Regions from separate parts of the Homo sapiens genome. Here region 1 is linked to region 2. The links come from fine-mapping of genetic effects on gene expression. Tissue or cell type: whole blood. Region 2 holds a variant in brackets; the other region holds the start of a gene. All regions are shown on one strand. Distances are from middle to middle.

Region 1 (12,249 bases), 25 kb before region 2:
AGAGTATTGCCAGACTACCGCTGATGTTCCCTTAAGGCCCAAGGGCTCTTAAGTCAGCTTGTGGTGAATTTGCCTGGCCTGGGTCTCACCCTTCAGGGCAGTGGGTTCTCCTTTGACCCAGGGCAGGTGCAGAAATACCATCCAAGAGCCAAGTCTTGGAATTGGGGACCCCATGAGCCCGCTTTGGGTTCTACTCACCTCTGGCTGAGCTGGTACCTAAGGTGCAAGACAGAGTCCCTTTACTCTTCCCTCTGCTTTTCTCAAGCATGAAGACTCTTGCTCCATAGTAACCACATCTGCAATGTGCTGAGTCTCACCTCAGCCAATAATGAAGCCATATAAGTCTCAGAGTATCACCGAAGGCCCTCAATGTAGTACATGTGTATTACTGCTGGTTGTTTAGTGCCCAAGGGCTCTTCAGTTAGCAGGTGATGAATCCTGCCAGAACTAGGTCCTTCCCTTCAAGGCAGCAGGTTCCCTACTGGCCCACGTTGTGTGTAGAAACACCATCTGGGAACTAGGGCCTGAAATGGGGGGTGGCCTCATGACTCTGACCAGTGCCTTATCCTGCTGTGACTGAGCTAGTATACAGGGTGCAAGACAAAGTCCTCCCCATCCTTCCCTCTCCTCTCCTAAAGTGGAAGGAAGGAGTCTCTTTTGAAGCCACAAGCTGTGCAGCCTGGACTAGGTGAGAGTTGATGCCAGCACTCCCACAACTGCCCTGGCTGGTGTCTCAGTAGGCCATGTGCCCCCTGAGTCCACTGGCTCTGGGCCCATTTCAGCCCTAGGACTCACCTAGGAGTTGTGGTCCTTGTGGCCTAGACTGCCTTTCAAGTTTACTTACAGCCCCAAAGTACTTTAGATCATTGTCATGATACTTGAGGGAACTCAACTTCTGACTGCTGGGATTGGTGATTTCCTGTTGGCTAGGGCTGCTTTAAGTATTTTCTCCACGGGCAGGTGTCAGCTGAGTTTTGTCCAGTTTTCCTTTCTGCTATAACAGGGCAGCACTGAGTTCAGCGCCTTAAATTTGCTGCATTCCCCCTTCCCCAGTGCACAGAAATGCTCTTTACACCATGCAACCATTGCTGGGGAGTGTGGGAGGAGTGGTGTTGGCAATTCAAGACTTTTTTCTACTTCTTCTGTGCCTCTTTCAGCAATATTAAGTTAAAACCAGGTACTGGCTGGGTGTGGTGCTCACGCCTGTAATCTCAGCACTTTGGGAGGCCAAGGTGGGAGGATCACTTGAGTTCAGGAGTTTGAGACCAGCCTGGCCAACATGGTGAAACCTCGTCTCTACCAAAAATACAAAAAATTAGTGGGGCGTGGTGGCATGTGCCTGTAATTCCAGCTACTCAGGAGACTGAGGCAGGAGAGTCGCTTCAACCTGGGAGATGAATGTAGCAGTGAGCCTAGCTTGTGCCACTGCACTCCAGCCTGGGTGACAGAGTGAGACTCTGTCTCAAAAACAAAACAAAACAAAAACAAAACCAGGTACTGTGACTGTTCACCTGATTTTGCTTCTCGTGAAGGTGCTTTTTTCTGTGTAGGGAGTTTTAAATTGCTGTCCTTGTTGGGGGATGCTTGGTGCAGGCTTCTATTTTGCCATCTTGCTCCACCTCTCATCTGAGTTTATATAATTTACTATGTCATGATTAAAAATCTAAAATAAAAGCTATAAGAACTTTATTTCTACTTATGGAAACATGTTTAAATGTGTTTATGCATGTCTACATGTGTTATGTGGTGTGTTTACATAATAAAGTCTGTCATAGCCAAAAATCCATGAACATTTTATTAAGTGAGAAAAATGAGGGCTCATATAAAATATATAGCAAATAACCCTCCCTTTTTAGTTTATGTGACTTAACTAAATATTTCATTAATTAATTTGTTTTAAAATTGTCAACATACATTTTTGCCTAGGTTTACTGGTCAGATCTTTTTTTTGAGAAGGAGTCTCGCTCTTTCACCCAGGCTGGAGTGCAGTGGCGCAATCTCGGCTGACTGCAGGCTCTGCCCCCCAGGGTTCACGCCATTCTCCTGCCTCAGCCTCCCTTGTAGCTGGGACTACAGGCGCCCGCCACCTAGCCCGGCTAATTTTTTGTGTTTTTAGTAGAGAGGCGGTTTCACCGTGTTAGCCAGGATGGTCTCGATCTCCTGACCTTGTGATCCGCCCGCCTCGGCCTCCCAAAATGCTGGGATTACAGGCGTGAGCCACCGTGCCCGGCCTGGTCAGATCATTTTATATTTGTTTTTGCTAGACGTTTTAAGGTCATGATGCTATAAACCCAGTCTAAAACAGAATGACCTTGTTGTGAAATTCCTTAATATATAAGATTAATTTAATGTTGTTGATATACTTAAAACAGCTATATCTTCTGAGTTATCAACAGGATACCCATGTATTTAACTTTAAAGTTTTTACTTAGATAAATACTTGATATTAACAGATATGAAACTTGTTAATAAACACAACAATGACTAGCTTTGTCTTATATTTCAGTTTTAAGAAGTAATCTAGATGTAATTGATAAAAAATAAATTAGTTAATTGTAAATAGAATAAATATTTATAAATAAAATTTTTATGTAATTTAAAATCCTGAAGTTATATTATGTTAAATAGTAGATACGATGTCTGGATCACATCCAAATAAGATAAAAATGGAAACAAACCACTGAATAAATATAAGTTCATTTTTGGCTTTTTAAAGTTTATAAAATTATAAATATATTTATATCTATTAATCAAAAATGAATTTAGGAAAAAATACTTTTGTATGATAAATAATCTTGAATAGTAAATTTTAGTCCTATAAAATAATTGGCTTTTTTAAAAAATGAAAAATGGTAGGACAAAGACTTGGGGGTTAAAAAAATGAGAAAATGTCTAAGCAAGTCAAAGAGCATTTATGAATAATAGGCCTGTGAGAAAACTTTTATGAATGATCAGGTTGGCCAGAATTAAAAATAAATAGTTTATAAGTGGTTTTCTAAAATTTAAACATTAATGTTGGAGGTGCACTGATACAGGACCAGAGCCTGGTCCTCCATTTTTAAAACAACATTTTCTTGAAGTATTGATCTGCTCCTGATAAAATTGTAAGAAGCTTTCATTTTGAATTCTAAAATCTATTTCTTTAACTGCTATCCCCTAAACTGCAGGCAGTTTCTATTTCTGCCACCTTTTTTCACTGAGATTCATTTAATTTCCCTAGTTTCACATTAAAAATGCTGTCTTCTTCATTTAAAATAATAATTTCTTTGCTTTTTTTTTTGAGATAGGGTTTCACTCTGTCATGCAGGCTGGAGTGTAGTTGCACGATCATGGCTCACTGCAGTCTTGACCTACTGGGCTCAAGCAGTCCTCCAACTTCAGCCCCCTTAGTAGCTGAGATTAAAGGCACACGTAACCACGCCCGGCTAATTTTTGTATTTTTTGTAGAGACAGGATTTTGTCATGTTGCCCAGGCTGGTCTCGAACTCCTGGGCTCAAACGATCTGCCCACCTCGGCCTCCCAAAGTGCTTGGATTATGGACATTGCACCCGTCTGGTAATATCATTTCTTGAGGTAGAGTTTTGCTTTTGAAATTTCTCAGATTTCGTATCTCAGTGGTTCAAATTTGCCATGTCTTGCTATTTGATTTCCAGGTCATATATCATTGCATTCAGGTTTTCTCCTCTTTAGAAAGCCTGGGATGGTAACTCTCTCCTTCAATTTTTTCATCAGTTGCTATACAATTTTTTTTTTTTGGTTCTAATTGCTGGTATGGCCTGACACTAAAGGTTTATCCTGAAGGCCTAGAAATCAATGCTCTTTTTCAATATAACTTGATTCTGTACTCTTGGCTTTTCTTGATACATGTGAATTGTTATAATCATGACCTGGGACACATCTTCCTGTATCTGATTAAATTCAAGTACCCTTTTCATCAGATTCGACCTCCAGGTTATCTAAATGAGCTCCCCAAAAGGAGAAACAATCACATTGCAGAAAGTTTTTCTTTACTTTTTTGGTACCTGGCCTAAGGAAGATTATACATTTTATCAACATAATTTCCTGTGTTGCTTTTATTAGATTTGATTTTTTTTTAACCTGAAGTTTAAAATGGTTAAGATAGTTTTAATGTAATTATTTGTATGGCTTTTTAAGCCTTTTGATTATCACTCTGGTTATATAAATGACTTATTTCACAAGTAACTTGTGATTCTGTATTGATACAGTGTTTTGAGCCCTTTAAAAACTTCCTCAAAATCAAATTCCAATTTAAGTTTTTTAAATGTAGAATTAACTTTGGAATTTTCCAGTTGGACTCCTGGAAAGCATTAAAACATATCTTTCTCATCTTTTAGAGGTATTAAATGATTTGGGTTATTTGGTAAATTTTATAAGAAATATTGTCAAACGATAACTGATACTAGATTTTTCTTTTATTTGCATTTATGGGAATATTGTTTATATGAATGTTTGAAAAATTATATAAGTCCATACAAGTATGCTGGGAATGATGGCTCATGCCTATAATCCCAACACTTTGGGAGGCTGAGGTCAGAGGATTACTTATAGCCAGGAATTTGTGTCCAGCTTGGGCAACAAAACAAGACCCTGTCTCTATTAAAACAAAACAAAACAAAACAAAAACAAAAAAAACCAAAAAAAAACCAAGCATGGTGGTACAAACGTGTAGTCCCAGCTACTTGAGAGGCTGAGGCAGAAGGATTGCTTGAGTCCAGGAGTTTGAGATTGCAGTCAGCTATGAATGTGCCACTGCACTCTAGCCTGGGCAATAGAGCAAGACCCCATCTTTAAAAAAAATTCGTACAAATGTATTATATTACCAGTCATAATTCTGGTTATCTTAAAATACTGTATATAATAGCAATAAATAAATGTTCTTCTCAGTTGTTAACTTCATCAGATTTTTAACCATGGCTATTTTAAGTTTTTGTCATCCATATTATTGTTTTGAATTCTTTTTTAAAAAACAGACTCCTGGAAAATATTCTAACAAGTACTCTTTTATTTTTATTTATTTATTTTTGAGACAATCTTGCTCTGATGCCCAGGCTGGGGTGCAGTGGCACGATCCTGGTTCATTGCAACCTCTGCCTCCCTGGTTCCAGTGATTCTCATGCCTCAGCCTCCTGAGTAGCTGGGATTACAGGCATGCGCTACCACGCTGGGTTAATTTTTTGTATTTTTAGTAGAGATGGGGTTTCACTATATTGGCCAGGCTTTTCTCCAACTCCTGGCCTCAAATGATCCTCCCGCCTTGGCCTCCCAAATTGCTGGGATTACCGGCATGAACCATTGTGCCTGGCCCTAAAATATACTCTTAGATTTGGGTTTCTAACAACTTGAAGATCAATGGACAATATAACAATTTCCAGAACTGTAATAAAAAAGTGGGTTCATGAAACTATTAATCAAGATCAGGCAGAACAAGAATTAATTACGTGAGTTTAACTAATGAAGACAATGTTTTTATGATATTATTTCAAATGTTGTTGGTTCTTTACTCAAATAGTTTTTTCCAGATTTAAGAAAATCTTGTCTTTTAAGCTATTTATAATTTACAGCAATTTGATAGAGTATACTTGTGTAAAAAAAGATAAAAACTTTTTTTCTCTTTACTTGATTCCTCCATAATTAGAAAACCATTTGTGAGTCTTCTTATGGTAATATGGTCATTTCAATAAGTCTAATAAAAATCTGCTCTCTCTGTATAGCAGAATACAATTGGAAACTGGTTATATTACCAAGGCTTTGACTGAAAGGTCATTTTTAAAAATATTGAGGCCGGACGCGGTGGCTCACGCCAGCAATCCCAGCACTTTGGGGGACTGAGGTGGGTGGATCGTTTGAACCCAGGAGTTCGAGAGCAACCTGGACATGGCGAAACTCCATCTCTACAAAAAATACAAAAATTAGCCAGGTGTGGTGGTCTGTGCCTGTAGTCCCAGCTTACTAGGAAGGCTAAGGTGGGAGAATCGTTTGAGCCCGGGAGGCTGAGGCTTCAGTGCTTCAGTGAGCAGTGATCCTGTCACTGCACTCCAGTCTAGGCGACCCTGTCAGGGAGACCCAGTCTCAGTTAAAAAAAAAAAAAAAACCCAAAACCCAAAAAACTAAAACTAGAATGGTATTTTCTACTGGGAATGTGGATTTGTGGATTGATGGTGAAATACTGGAAATTTAAAGCCTACACTAGAATCCATTGAAAAAAGCAAACAAGAAAAACTTCAAGGTTGGCTACATTGAATTTGAATGTAAAGATTAAAAAAAAATAAGTAAAAAACAAAAGAAGACATAGATCCAATCCCATATACCAGGAAATGCACTCTAAGGTATATACGGAAAATATATTTAACACATGTGTATCAGGACGCAGGCACAAGTAACTTCAAAGCAGCGCTGTTTCAAATAGTAAAAAAAGGAAAAACTGGAAACTGTTCAAAAGCTTCATCATCTCGATGATCTTGGTCTTCCGCCTCGCCTTCTTCTCCAAGGTGAATATGTACTGGGCCAGCACCACCCCCGCCACCAGGGCGCACACGCTGGCGCTCGCTACCGCGACCACCCTCGCCACGGTCGCGCGGTGCATGGACGGGGCCCTCATGAGTGTCCCGGCAGGAAAAAAACACCGCGATTGGGACTCTCAGAAGCGCAGGATCCCAGAGCACCATGGACAAGCCAGTGACGCCCCGCCCCCACTAGGCCCCACCCACACGCACCGAGGGGAGAGGGCGGTCACGCGGCCGGGGGGGCGTGGCCTGCCCCCGGAGCCCAGGCAGGAGGAGGGTCTTCCTTAAGGAACTGCTGCCAGGACAGGGCAGAGGATTGCAGTAATTATCACTCTCTGCTAATGAGGACCAGGCCGTGGTTCACTCGAGCCCCGCCCCAGTAGCAATCTAATTCCAACCGCGGCCCTCTCAGAAGTCGGTCCCCGCCTTTGCGCCTCAGCCTCTCTGGACTCCAGCCCCCAGAAGTCGGCGCGGCACGGCGTGACCTGCGCAGTGGCGTCCGTTGTAAGTGCTATGACAACAGGGCGAAGATGGCTCAGAGTTAGGCTGGAGAGGGGAGGTGTCCCTTCCGCTGCGGCCGTCGGGTTTCTGCTACATCCCATTCACCGCCTCCTCCATCCTTTCCTCCTCGGTGTGAGCAGCAGGACTTGCATTTGTTCTCGCCTGCCTAGTGTCTTCCAAGGGATAGATGCCGTTTCCTCTGCTGGTCTCTGGGGGTGACGGGGGGCGCAGGGGAGCTTCTTGGGGGAATCACTCCAACTCTGTGGAGCTGGTGGTGCTGCCTGGTGGGGCTCTCTCTTTGCCCGGGACGTGGAACAACTTTCAGCTGGAGGACGAGAGGGAATAGTGAAGCTAAAGGTTGCTTTTCTCTGCACCGTCCGTTCTTGCTCCCTCTGCTCCATCACTGGGACCTTGTCAGGCGTTCATAAAGCAAAATTTGCCGAACGAGGGTTCGCAGAAAGGTGGGGCAGAGCTCATCTGACGTGGCATCAGGTAAGATGGTATGTCTGTTGTTAAACTTCGGGTACATGAATACCCTTTCCATGTTTTATTTTGTGAACAAGATTCTCTAATGCAGTATAATGGTTTGGAGTCTGTAAGGTGATTGATTTCTTAGATGTTTGCACTGAAATAAACAAACACTAGGAGCACAAAGTGTATGAGATTCTGTGAGTACTTTTGAGAAAAAAGGGATGAGAATTTTTAAGGATTCCATTGAGGAATGTCACTTGGAGCATGAGCATCCTCCTGAGACACTTCAACAGGTCTGTGAGTAAATGGGCAAAGCAGTTCCCAGCCTACGACTGAAGTAGGATGCATGTACTAATACCCCCAATCCTTCTAGTAATAGGATTATTGTTTCTCCTCTTGTTACTTGGAGACCACAACAGTTTAGATGAGCTGCGCTGATTTTATCAGCACCTCCTGCCAGTCAAATCCTGCCTTTGACTTCAATTTCCTGGAGAAATGTATTTTTTTGGGTATCTCACTTTTACTTTAAAAATGAAACCGTATCTTACAGGTATACACATCTTACATGTCCTCATTGATAAACAACTTGAAAGATGCTGCAGGATAAGCTATGGGTCTTAAGTTGGCCAGCATTCAGAGAAAGATTTTCTAACTTATTAGCATTTTATAAAGAAAACAATTACTGAGATTTTTTTCATGAATATACGGAAGAATTAAAAAAAAAACTAGAAAACCCAGAAGTTTTTAAAGAAGAATTTTAAAAAACTTTATTTTGAAAATAAGTTACAAGTTATTTGTCAGAGTTTAAGGGATTTTTCCTTGTGTGTAATTGTCGTGGTTAAATTACAACTATACACTTATATTTATGGTACAACTTCTTGATAGAAATGCTCACTGAAGGGAAAAAATCCAACAGCAATAGTATATATAGTAATTTTAAAACTTTTACACCTTTTGAGGGATGTAGTAAGTCTTACGCTTTAGAATACTTTGAAATATTTTTGAAAATTATTAAAATACATGAAATTATTATAAAACATCCCTGCTGGTTAATAACATTTCCATTAGTGATTACTATCAGTCTTTGTGAGTCCCATTTAAAATTTCGGTCCAGAGGGTGAGTTTGGCATTCGTAATTGTGTCTTGCACAGAACACACTACCACCGTCTCTTTCAACTACCACTACTACCACTGTCTCTCCTACTAGCACTGTTTCTACTGTTGGGTTATTACTGACATCTATTGAGTACTTGCTATGGGTTGAGCCATTTTATCCTCCTCCACCCTAGAACAATTGAGATACTAGAGGATAAGGGACTTGTTTAAGATCATGTAGTGTAACGTGGTCAGAAAGTGCACCCAGAGCTGTCCTACTCCAAATTTTGTGTTATTTTGCCCTTTGAGTCTTTTGTTGAAAATTCCAACAGTGAGCCCTTGTATTATTGCCTTCAAAAGCAGTATACTTCTTTTGAACACTACATGCATTTGTCATCTTTCTTTGACTGGAAGACCTGATTTCTACTTTCTTAAATTTGGTGTGACACTGGCATAACCTGGAGAAAGCAAAGCTCTGAAAATGAACAACAGCTGCAAGGTCTGTTTCCAGAACTGACCTTCAAACCTGTATGTTTTTTCCACAGCATTCTTTGGGGTTATTGTTTTCACAGCTGATCATATTGTAGGACTAGGTCAATGAGGTGTTCAAGACCAGCCTGGGCAACATAGTGAGACCTCGTCTTTGCCGAGCATGGCAGAAAAAATAAAAATTATTAAAACTTTTTAAAATATTAAAAAAAGAACAATAGCAAATTAAATTCAGAAGGTCAGCAAAAAAAGGTCAGCCACCTCTTAAATGAAACCTAAATCTGAGTAAACTTGTTGTAGAAAAAAAAGTATTCAAAACAAAAAAGTGTCAAGTGAAGAGTATAGAAGAGAATTTCTGGAGTTTAGGGGATAAGGAGATTATCTCCCATTTATTATTCTAATAAGGCATTAGAAACTAATCTGTTATGCCTGTTTATAGGACTGCACCTGTTACAACCTTCAAATTATTGTCTTCTAATCATCCTTTAACAATTTAATCAAATTTATGACATACTTGCCTGTAGTTTGAACTTGTAGTGTTTAGAATTAGTGTGAATAGAGCTATTGCTTTTATAGTCTACATGGAGGGGCGTGTGCATAGGCCGTTTGTTTAGGGTTCTGGAGTAGACAGTCTGGGTTTAGGTACCGCACATCACTTAACTAGTGAGACCACTGGCACGGATTTCTTAACTTCTCTGTATTCAAGGATACCTGAATAATAGTATCTACAATTTACTTTGTAGTTTTGTTATGAATATCAAAATAGAATGCTTGCAAAGCATTTAGAATCCTGACTGGCTTTAGTAAATGATTAGTAGATACTTTCCTTTAAGGCGAAGTCATTAAAAACCTGGTTTTTATTTTCCAATTACTTAAAGACAAATCAGTGAGCAACTGGAAATCAACACTGAATGAAAAGGGGATAAAATGCAAACCTCGGTTCCTTATTCAAGACAGTTAACTAAACTGAATTAAAAAAACATTGTATACATATTTTATTTTTTGTTATTTAAAACACTTTTTGTTTATTTTGTAACCCAAAAGCCAGGTTTCATGACCAAAAAATGTTTTATTACTATTGTTCCTTACCATCTTTCCTAACCTGTCAGTACCAGACCTCCCACACCTACCTGCTTATCTTAATATCTCAATGTCAAGGCCTATATCTTTCCTAGATTGGAATACAGATTAGCATTTTATTTGTGTCTCAATTTATGGCTAATTTTTCATTTTCTTGATGACTTGGGATGTCTTCCAGGAGAAAGGGCAGAATTTATTTTGCTGACCTTCTGAATTTAATTTGCTATTGTTCTTTTTTTAATATTTAAAAAAGTTGTAATAATTTTTATTTTTTCTGCCATGCTTGGCAAAGATGAGGTCTCACTATGTTGCGCAGGCTGGTCCTGAACTCCTTAGCTCAAGTGATCAATCCGCCTTGGCCTCCCAAAGTGCTGGGATTACAGGTGTGTGCCACCACACCTGGCCTAATGGTAAATGTGGCCAAAATACAGGAGTGTTCTGCTTTAAAAAAAAATGAAAGTTTATGGGGAATTTGAAGCATAACCAAAAGCATGAAGAATAACAAAATGAACCCCCATGTATCCATCATCATTTGTTATCTTTAAAAAAAAACAGCTTTGTTGAAATACAATTCAAATACCATACAATTCACCCATTTAACACATAAAATTCAGTTCCTTTTTTGTATATTCACAGATACATGTAACCATTACCACAGCCAAGTTTGGAATATTTTTATCAACTCAAAAAGAAACCTCGCATCCCTTAGCTATAACTCTCCTTCTCTCTTCCTTCTCCCCTACCCCCAGACCTAAGCAACTAAGAATCTACTTTCTGTCTTTATGAATTTGCCTATCCTGGATATTTTATATAAACAGAATCATATAATAGGTGGCCTTTTGTTACTGGCTTCTTTAACTTAGCATGTTTTTAAGAGCCAGATATGTCTGATTCTAAAACCTATATGCTTTTATTTATTTATGTTGTAACATATATCAGTATTTTGTTCTTTTCTTTTTTATGGCCAAATAATATTCCACTGTATGGATGCTTCCTTTTGTTTATATATTCATCAGCTGATGGACATTTGGGTTGTTTCCAAATTTTAGATATTATGAATAATGCTACTATAAACATTTATGTGTAAGTTTTTTTGTATGCACATATGTTTTCATTGCCCTTGGATAGATACTTCAGTGTCAGATTGCTGGGTCATATGGTAATTCTGTGTTTAAGTGTTAGAGGAACTTCTAGATTCCTTTCCAAAGTGGTTGCATCGTTTTGCATTCTCACTAGCAGTATATGAGGGCTCTGATTTCTTTACATCCTCACCAATGCTTATTACTATCTGACTTCGATTCTGTCATAGTAGGTGTGAAGTCATATCTCATAGTTTTGATTTGTGTTTCCCTAATGACTAATTATGCTGAGCATTTTTTTTTTGAAACGGAGTTTTGCTCTTGTTCCCTAGGCTGGAGTGCAATGGTGTGGTTTTGGCCCACTGCAACCCCTGCCTCCAGGTTCAAGCAATTCTCCTGCCTCAGCCTCCCAAGTAATTGGGCTTACAGGCACCTGCCATCACGCCTGGCTATTTTTTTTTTTTTTTTTTTTTGTATTTTTAGTGGAGATGGGGTTTCACCATGTTGGCCAGGCTGGTCTCGAACTTCTGGCCTCAGGTGATCCACCCACCTTGGCCTCCCAACGTGCTGGGATTACAGGCGTGAGCCACTGCGCCTGGCCTTGAGCATCTTTTTATGTTCTTATTGGCCATTTGTATATCTTACTTGGAAAAATACCTATTCAGACCCATTGTTCATTTTTAATTGACTTTTTTAAATTACTGAGTTGTATGAGTTCTTGTATATTATCAGATACATGATTTGCAAATATTTTCTCCCATCATTTCATCTTCTTGATGGTGACCTTTGAAACCTAAAAGTTTTTAGTTTTGATAAAGTCTACTTTATTCATTTATTTTGTTTTTTTGAGATAGAGTCTCACTCTGCTGCCCAAGCTGAGAGGTGTGGTGGCATGATTTTAGCTCACAGCAACCTCAAACTCTTGGGCTCAATCCTCAAACTCCTGCCTCAGCCTCTCAAGTAGCTGGGATTATAGGCACACACAACCATGCCCAGCTTATTTTTTCTT
Region 2 (8,000 bases):
TCCTGATCAGTGCCTTTACTTTTACTTAAGAAGGCTGGAGAGATTTGTCAGGTCATTTGTTATTGTAATTTAAAACTTAAAGAATCAGTCTCTGAATGAGCTTCTCAGTGATTAAGCCCCACTATCTGAGTAGTAAGTGGTGAGAAATGTTTCTGCAGAGTACCAAAGACCCTGAGTTTTATTCTTTACCCTTAGATGACAATTTTGAGATTTAAACCTATCATTCTTTTATTTTAAATTATCCAATTTAATTTAAATAAAGCTATCTTCGATAAAGCTATCTTACATGTGGTTTGGTGTTCCTCCTTGTTCAGCTGGCTATGGCAGCAGCTGTCCAGTCTACTAGAGTTTCACCTGCAATGGGCACAGGGTCCCAGATGACTAGAGATGATAACTTGATTAATTGTTCTGTTACAATGTAAAGTGATACTTAACCCCACCTAGAACATGAATGGGAGTGTTCTGTGAAAGGGCATATACGCAAAGTGGCCCTCAAATACTGAAGGAGCTGAGAACCAAAGATTGAGGCAGACAAATCCAGTTTGTCAGTATACAGTGATTTATTAGGTGAACTTATGGGCAGAAATGTCCTGGGCAGTTGCAAGACAGGCAGCTCTCCACACCACAACCCCCAGACCCAGGGCTTGTATCTTGGGGAAAAAAAGTATACATGCTCTGAGAAGAATGTGTAGGTGGCTATGAGTGTCACAGCCTATGATGTATGCAGCAACATCAAGTGCTGTTTTGGAGGAAAGGCAAAACTTAAAATGAATAGATGTTTCTGCATAAAGAGTAATACATCAACTAGAGATCTTAGAGGAGTTCTTGGACTTGAGTTTAGTCAGGAGTCACATGGCAGATTAGCATTTAAAATAAAGTTACTCTTGTCCCCACAAGGAATCTTACTGTTTTGTACCGCATTTCAGGTCAAGAACCAATTCCCATACTTTGGAGGCCAAGGCAGGTAGATTGCTTGAGTCCAGAAGTTTGAGACCAGCCCAGACAACATGGCAAAACCACATCCCTACAAAAAATACAAAAATTAGCTGGGCATGAAGGCATATGCCTGTATTCCCAGCCACTCAGGAGGCTGAGGTGGGAGGATCAATTGAGCCTGGGAGGTTGAGGCTGCAACAAGCTGTGATTGCATCACTGTACTCAAGCCTGGGCAACAGAGTGAGACCCTGTCTCAAAGGAAAAAAAAAAAGAAGAACCAATTCCAAATATGCTTGCATGTTTGCATGCCTGCAGTTTATTTTCTAGTGCTCATTTCTATATCAGTTATCTTTTTTTTTGGCCACAAGTGACAGGAAACTGATAGATTTAAGTACAGAAGGTGCTGGAATGAATGTAAGATAGCTTTCCCAATGCAGGCAGAGTTGAACTGAACAAGCCTTTAGTGGGGACAGGAATGGGCATGGCTCCAGAGACCTTGTAAGCCTCCAGTATTGAAGTTCCCAGGATTATACCTCTCTCATAGGGTTATTATGAGGATTTTTTTTTTCTTGAGATGGAGTCTTGCTGTGTCACCCAGGCTGGAGTACAGTGGCACTGTCTCGGCTCAATGCAGCCTCCACTTCCCGGATTCCAGCGATTCTCCTGCCTCAGCCTCCTGGGTAGCTGGGATTACGGGCATGCGCCACCACACCTAGCTAATTTTTTCTATTTTTAGTAGAGATAGGGTTTCAACATGTTGGCCAGGCTGGTCTCGAACTCCTGATCTCAAGTGATCTGCCTGCCTCGGCTTCCCAAGGTGCTAGGATTACAGGCATGAGCCACTGCACCCAGCCTTTTTTTTTTTTTTTTTTTTTTTCAGTGACAAGGTCTTGTTCTTTCGCCCAGGCTAGAGTACAGTGGCACGATTAGAGCTCACTGCAGCCTTGAACTCCTTGGCTCAAGCAGTCCTTCCACCTCAGCCTCCCAAGTAGCTGGGACTACAGGGGCATGCCACTGCACTCAGCTTTGCATGCCATTCCCTCCATGTCTCTGTTCTGTCCTCTTAAAGGACACTAATTGAGTTTGATCACACATCTAATTAACTGGACCTCATTTTAACTTGATTACATGTGCAAAGACTCTGTTTCCAAATCAGGTCACATTCAGAGGTACCTGGGGTTATGACTTTAACGTATCTTTTTTTGGGGGGACACAATTTAACTTACAACACCCATTCTATCATTTCCCCTGCTTGTACTTAAGATGAAACATTGCTTATCAAGGCACTCTATCTAGTGACGACTCAGAATCCTTTTTAATACAGTGTTTTCGACAGCCACAAGCAGTTATAGAGTTGGCCTCTATGATGGAATCAGTTTACAACATTGTACTAGTCCTTTGATAAAGGGGCTTGCTTTGATTGAGTTAAATTATGACTTTGATACCAAATAAAGGTTTAGGAAAAAATGCAATATGTTAGTACATTTGACTATAGGGATGTAAAGCTATTTATGAAAGCTGTGTGTTATTAAAATAAGTACTCTTTAATTACACCTTTTTTGACAGAGTGGCCTTTGTGTATAAAGCAAGACTGAATTCTTTTAATTTTTAGATTTCTCTTTTACACATTAGAAAGCTTATTTCCTAAGAGATTTGCTAATGTTTGTTTCTCCCTCTATCTTTTTTTTTTTAAATTCTCTACAGATAAAATAATTGTGGGTAGCTTTATGGGATACCTAAGGATCTTTAGCCCCCATCCTGCAAAAACAGGAGATGGAGCTCAAGCCGAAGATTTGCTTCTAGAAGTGGATCTACGAGATCCAGTACTTCAAGTGGAAGTAGGAAAGTTTGTTTCGTAAGTAAGCCCACTAATTCTGGTATTTTACTTGGAGTATGTCAATCCTTTACAGTGTCACTTTTGTGTATTCTTCAAAGAAGACTATCCATGAATTAAATATATTTTCTGGATATTGTCACCTAGGGGTTTCTCACGTATGGAATGCTTTTTATGTGGAAACTGTACATTTAAGATATAATAATTTAGGGCCTTTTAATAGTAATAGACTTAAGATGCCTGACATTATCAGAAGCTTAAAAACAAAGAGATAAGCTTTTGAAAATAACCAAATAAAGAAATAAATAAGAAGTATCTACTTATTTAAAGTTATATAAGTGTCCATTTATAATTAGATGAAGTAGCAGATAACCATTACTTTTTGGTTCATAGCTTTGAGGTTTTAAAATGAATAGTTATTTGGGGTAGAGATGCCCTATCGTTTCTTGAAAGAAGTCAGTTCAACCCACAAAGTAAGTCTTCCCCCTACAAGAGCTTTGTTTCAAAGTACTTTATTCTTAAATCTAATTTATTTTAGAAAACTGTTTATTAGTTTGAACTTTGGGTAATATGTCTGCTTTTTATTTACTGATGATATTGCTGATCCTCTTATTTTCATACACAAACTTTCTTAAAATTAAGCTTGTATTTCTTCATCATTTAGAAGTACGATGAACACTTATCAAGTAGCCAGAGTCAGTTTGCCTCCTCTTTTTGAGCTCCCTTTTGCCTTTTTAAATCTGGGCAGTACCCTAAGCTCTGGATTTTGGCATTCTACATTTGTTTATCATAATTTATTGGCCCCAGGGGCCATTTAGTCAGGGCCCTAACTCCTGCTTGAAAACCAAACAACCACTCATGAGCATTCACATTCTTCTAGTGATATGTTTTATTCTGTTGGGAAGCTGTAGCTTAGATGCTTTAGGCTGGGATATGAGATGAGACTTTTATGCTTTGTGACAGGCTGGATTGCGGAGATTTTGTGACCGAAGTGGTTGGTAAATATCTACTCCATCTAAAAGCAGATGGTGATTAGGT[T/G]CCCATCATGTGCCTAGGACATATTAGGTGTGATGGATTTACAAAGTAAGGAGACAAAAGCATCCTTCCTGCTAAAAAGTGTTTTTACCTTACCATTAAAAAAGTGAAACACAGCCAATAATCATTCTGTATAGTAGTCCTTAAGTATAGCCCTCATCTATGTGCTCACATTGGAAGGGGAGGAAGTTAACGTTGTTAAGTAGATAGTATACTAGGCCTTTCTATGACATCATGCTCTTTTCCTGAGCATGGTGGAAAACTTGTTTTGAATGTCCAGGGTACATATACAAAATTTCCAAAGGTGATACTGATTATGTGATAGTCATGTATATTTGCATTTTCTACTAGTAGAGCAAATGATGAGTATATATTAATTGTAACAATGTTTTGCAGATGTTATCTAATAAGATTCTTATTTGTAAATAAGATACTAACACTCTGAAAGTTTAAATGATCATACATATAGTAAGGTGCAGAGTCAGAACCCCCACCTAGGTCTGCAGACTTCAATTATAGTCCTTGCAGTTTAGAACAGTCTGTTCTAAACAGGCGTTGTACACTGGAGGCCTGCTTGTACATGTGAGCCTGTTCAGTATTTTATTTTGTTTTATTTTGAGGCGGAGTTTCACTCTCGTCGCCCAGACTGGAGTGCAATGGCGTGATCTCAGCTTGCTGCAACCTCCGCCTCCCAGATTCAAGCAATTCTCCTGCCTCAGCCTCCCAAGTAGCTGGGACTACAGGCACGTGCCACCATGCCTGGCTAATTTTTGTATTTTTAGTAGAGACAGGGTTTCACCATGTTGGCCAGGCTGGTCTCGAACTTCTGATCTCAGGAGATCCACCGCCCCCTCCCACCTCAGCCTCCCAAAATGCTGGATTACAGGTGTGAGCCATTACACCTGGCCGCCTGCTCAGTATTTTAAATTTAAAAGAGCTGTCAACATTTAAGAACCAAGAGATTTCACATAAAACCCAATGCTTTCTGGCTTTTCTTGAAAAATGTGGGGCTCTGGCCCCAAGCCCAGAACCAAGTAATAGCCACCTCCTTTAGTCTGGTTCAGTCTCCAGTTAATCACAGCCATTTACACTCTTTACTCATTAACAACCCCTGGCTTGATCCTTGAAAACTGAATTTAGGATCTCTAGACTGTGCCATGCTAGTTTCTGGAAACCACTTGAGATAGGCTGGGAATTGTTGTGGTGATATTGGTAGTTTATTTCTATTTGAGATTTAGTCCAAACAGAAATATTTTCAATACTTGTAATAAAATTTCAGATATGGAAGTGATATATGCTACTTGTAATAATGATTGGTGTTTTGTGATGTTTTAACCTTTCCAAGATGGTTTCACATTATTTTATTTCATTTCATTGAACCTCTTATTTTTCATGAGAAATAGGCTCAGGGAGATTTTAGTGACTTGCCCAAAGTCACGGATGAATTAGTCAGAAAGCCAGGACTAGAACTTGGATTTCTTTATTGAAAGAAATAGCACTTAGGGAAGGACCTCAGATCTGACTTTTTCTTGGAAGCTCTGTTGGCTTCAATCTGAAGGCAGTGCCTTGAGGCAGAGTACTTGAGCCTCTGGGGTTGTCACATTGGCTGTTTATTGTTATATTTATTTTTCAGTTTAGAATGTTATCTAATGAATTGTTTTGTTTACTCACAGTGGCTGTGGTTATGAGATCTTTTTGAAATTATTTTACAACTTTTTGGTTACGTCTAAAGCTAATATTGGAAAACTTTAAAAACTTTCTCTGTTTTTCAGAGGTACCGAAATGCTACATTTGGCTGTGTTACATTCTAGAAAACTTTGTGTCTACTCTGTCTCAGGTAAGAAATATTTTTACCAATGTAGAATTTATATTACAAATTGGGCTTAATGTTATATGAGAATAGATATTCCCTAGTGCTGACTTGGTAGAGAACACAAAACATTTAGTTGAATGTTTTCTTGTCTTGGTTAACATTTTCCCATTTTTCATTTATTCTTTCAGATACTTAGGCTATTACATTTTCATGGTCTACTATTTCTGTGTATATGTATCTTTCTAGCAGAGGATTCCTCTTAATCACCTGCCTCTCCAGAATTGTTTCCGGGATTGCCTGTGACTAATAGAGGCCAATTCTGGGTACTTAAGACACTTGAGTCTTAAGAAATGTTCTACAATAACAAAATTGATTAGATGCTAAGTCATAGTGGTTTGAAGTACATTTTCTTTGGTGAACCTCAAGTATTTTCTCTTTACCGTTCCAATTTCTTGGTTTTTGGTTGTCTTCACTCAGTCAGGCTTCATCAGGTTTCATTCTCTGACATGGTTCTGTGGGTACAAGTATAGTGTGCGGTTTGGTTTTTATTAAAATTATAGTATGTGGTTTGGTTTTTATTATATTTTATTTTGGCCTTTATTAAATGTAAGATATAACTTAAAAATTTTTATTTCAATTATTAGATAAGTTTAGTTCAAGTTGAGAGTTATTTTAATGGATGTCAGTGTTGGGGGCATTTTTTTTATGGGTATGAGAAAACTAAGTGTCTGTGAGGCTGTTCCTTTTACCAGAGATCCTCTCCTTTGGAGCTTGCTGTAAATGTTACCTTCTAGGATTTGGATTTCTCAGACTTATTCTCTTCATTTGGGCTTTCTTTGTATTTTGCTTTCAATTTGAGTAATGATGCATATTTACTGACTGAGTTGGATATTCTTAGGCAGTCTCTTTTCAGGGTGAAGATCTTTTAGATTTCCAAGGCAGGCTTGGTAACCTGGCGTGGTATATGGTAGACATCCAGTAAATACTTGTTGAATGAATGAATGAACAAATTTCTGGGTAGTGCTGAGGCAATTGACAGTGGCTTTCTTTATTACTCTTCACCATGTTCTGTTTTCGTCCCCTTCTCTGTTACCACTATCATTTTATTTCCCACTCTGTTTATGTCAGAGGCCTGATAAAGTGTGCTCTCATTGATTTTATGGTAAAGGACATGGTTTCATGTTGCTCCTCCTAGTGTCAGGGCATTTATTTAGTATGCCAGAGTAAATGGAGAAGGTATTATCATACGATATAGGCTACTTTATTGCATGGATCTAGTTGTTCTTCTGTTTTTGACCGTAAGCCTGTTATTTTACTAAGTGGGTTACACAAGCCATGGAGGAGAATTTGCCTACAGTTATAGTTACCCAGAATACTTCTTTGGCAATTAGTTCCTTCTGAAGCTCCATGGGGGCTCTAAGCAGGGCAGAGAGGAGGGTATCTTAGAAGCTAGAAATTCGATTAGACACTAGGCCTTCCCTGGTCCTGCTCGAACTATGGGCCAAAAAGACAGATGCCTCTGGAGTTCCACTGGGGCTTAGAGCACAGACAAGGGATAAAAAGTGTACTTATCAGAAAAACGTACTGAAAGAAACTGGCATATTAGGTGACAATTTGTTTATGGCATATTGATATCCTTCAAGTAAGTGTTGAAAATGAAAGTTATTTGCTATGGGAATGGTGATTTTATAGCTCTTTTATTCTTTGTGTTCATTTAAAAGCTTTGTATTCTCTGGGGACTAGGAGTTGTCCAAACTACATTCTCTTAGGCCCCACCTCACTTCCCTTCTGTCTTTCATTTCTTCAGCCTCTTGTGATGTGGGCTGACAATTTGTATATTTTTCCTGGCTTGGGCTTAAATTGAGAAGCATGGGAATGTTTTTGTTCTCTTGAATATGTTTCTTGAAGTTCCAGATTGAACTTTTACCTAGCTTTTACTGTCACAGGGGAAGCACAAACATTTTCTAATTTAAGTGAAACCACTAGTGTCAGCAGACAAACGTGTGAGCTGAACTTGACATCCTTTTCTTCAACTGCTCCCTTCTCAAATATTTTCAAACTAGAGGAGCCTTTCTAAGGTCAGTCTCCTGGACATACCTAACAACCCTTAATAGTCAGAGGCTATTTTGCTAACTTCTTTTTGGTGGGTTATGTGTCATCAAATGTATGCTTAATATAGAGAAAAAAACAGGGTCTTGCTGACCTGAAGTTGGCCTATCTTATCATACTCTGGTAAAGAGAAAGCATCACATGGCATCTCAGATTTCTTTCTGATGGGCTTCAGTTTCTGAATAAATGGTTACAGATGTGTGAGTGTGAGCCGTACTGATTATGTTGTTTTAAATATTATTTTCCAAAAGATGTGTACTTCTCAAGAGGCAT

The links. PIP is the estimated chance that this variant, and not a neighbour inherited with it, causes the effect.
Region 1: it holds the start of BBS9, and the variant in region 2 is fine-mapped to the expression of BBS9 in whole blood (TOPMed, PIP above 0.99).

What each region holds. Positions count from the first base shown.
Region 1 is chr7:33,122,524-33,134,772 of GRCh38, forward strand. It overlaps BBS9 (Bardet-Biedl syndrome 9), which reads left to right and starts at 7,041. Exons shown (of 23, transcript NM_198428.3): 1 at 7,041-7,518. RefSeq lists enhancers at 6,454-6,503, 6,994-7,103 and a silencer at 6,644-6,943.
Region 2 is chr7:33,150,061-33,158,060 of GRCh38, forward strand. BBS9 (Bardet-Biedl syndrome 9) reads left to right here. Exons shown (of 23, transcript NM_198428.3): 3 at 2,641-2,791; 4 at 5,578-5,642. Among named protein-coding and RNA genes, the nearest start is that of BBS9, 24 kb to the left of the region's middle. The variant T/G (reference allele first, on the strand shown) is at 3,809.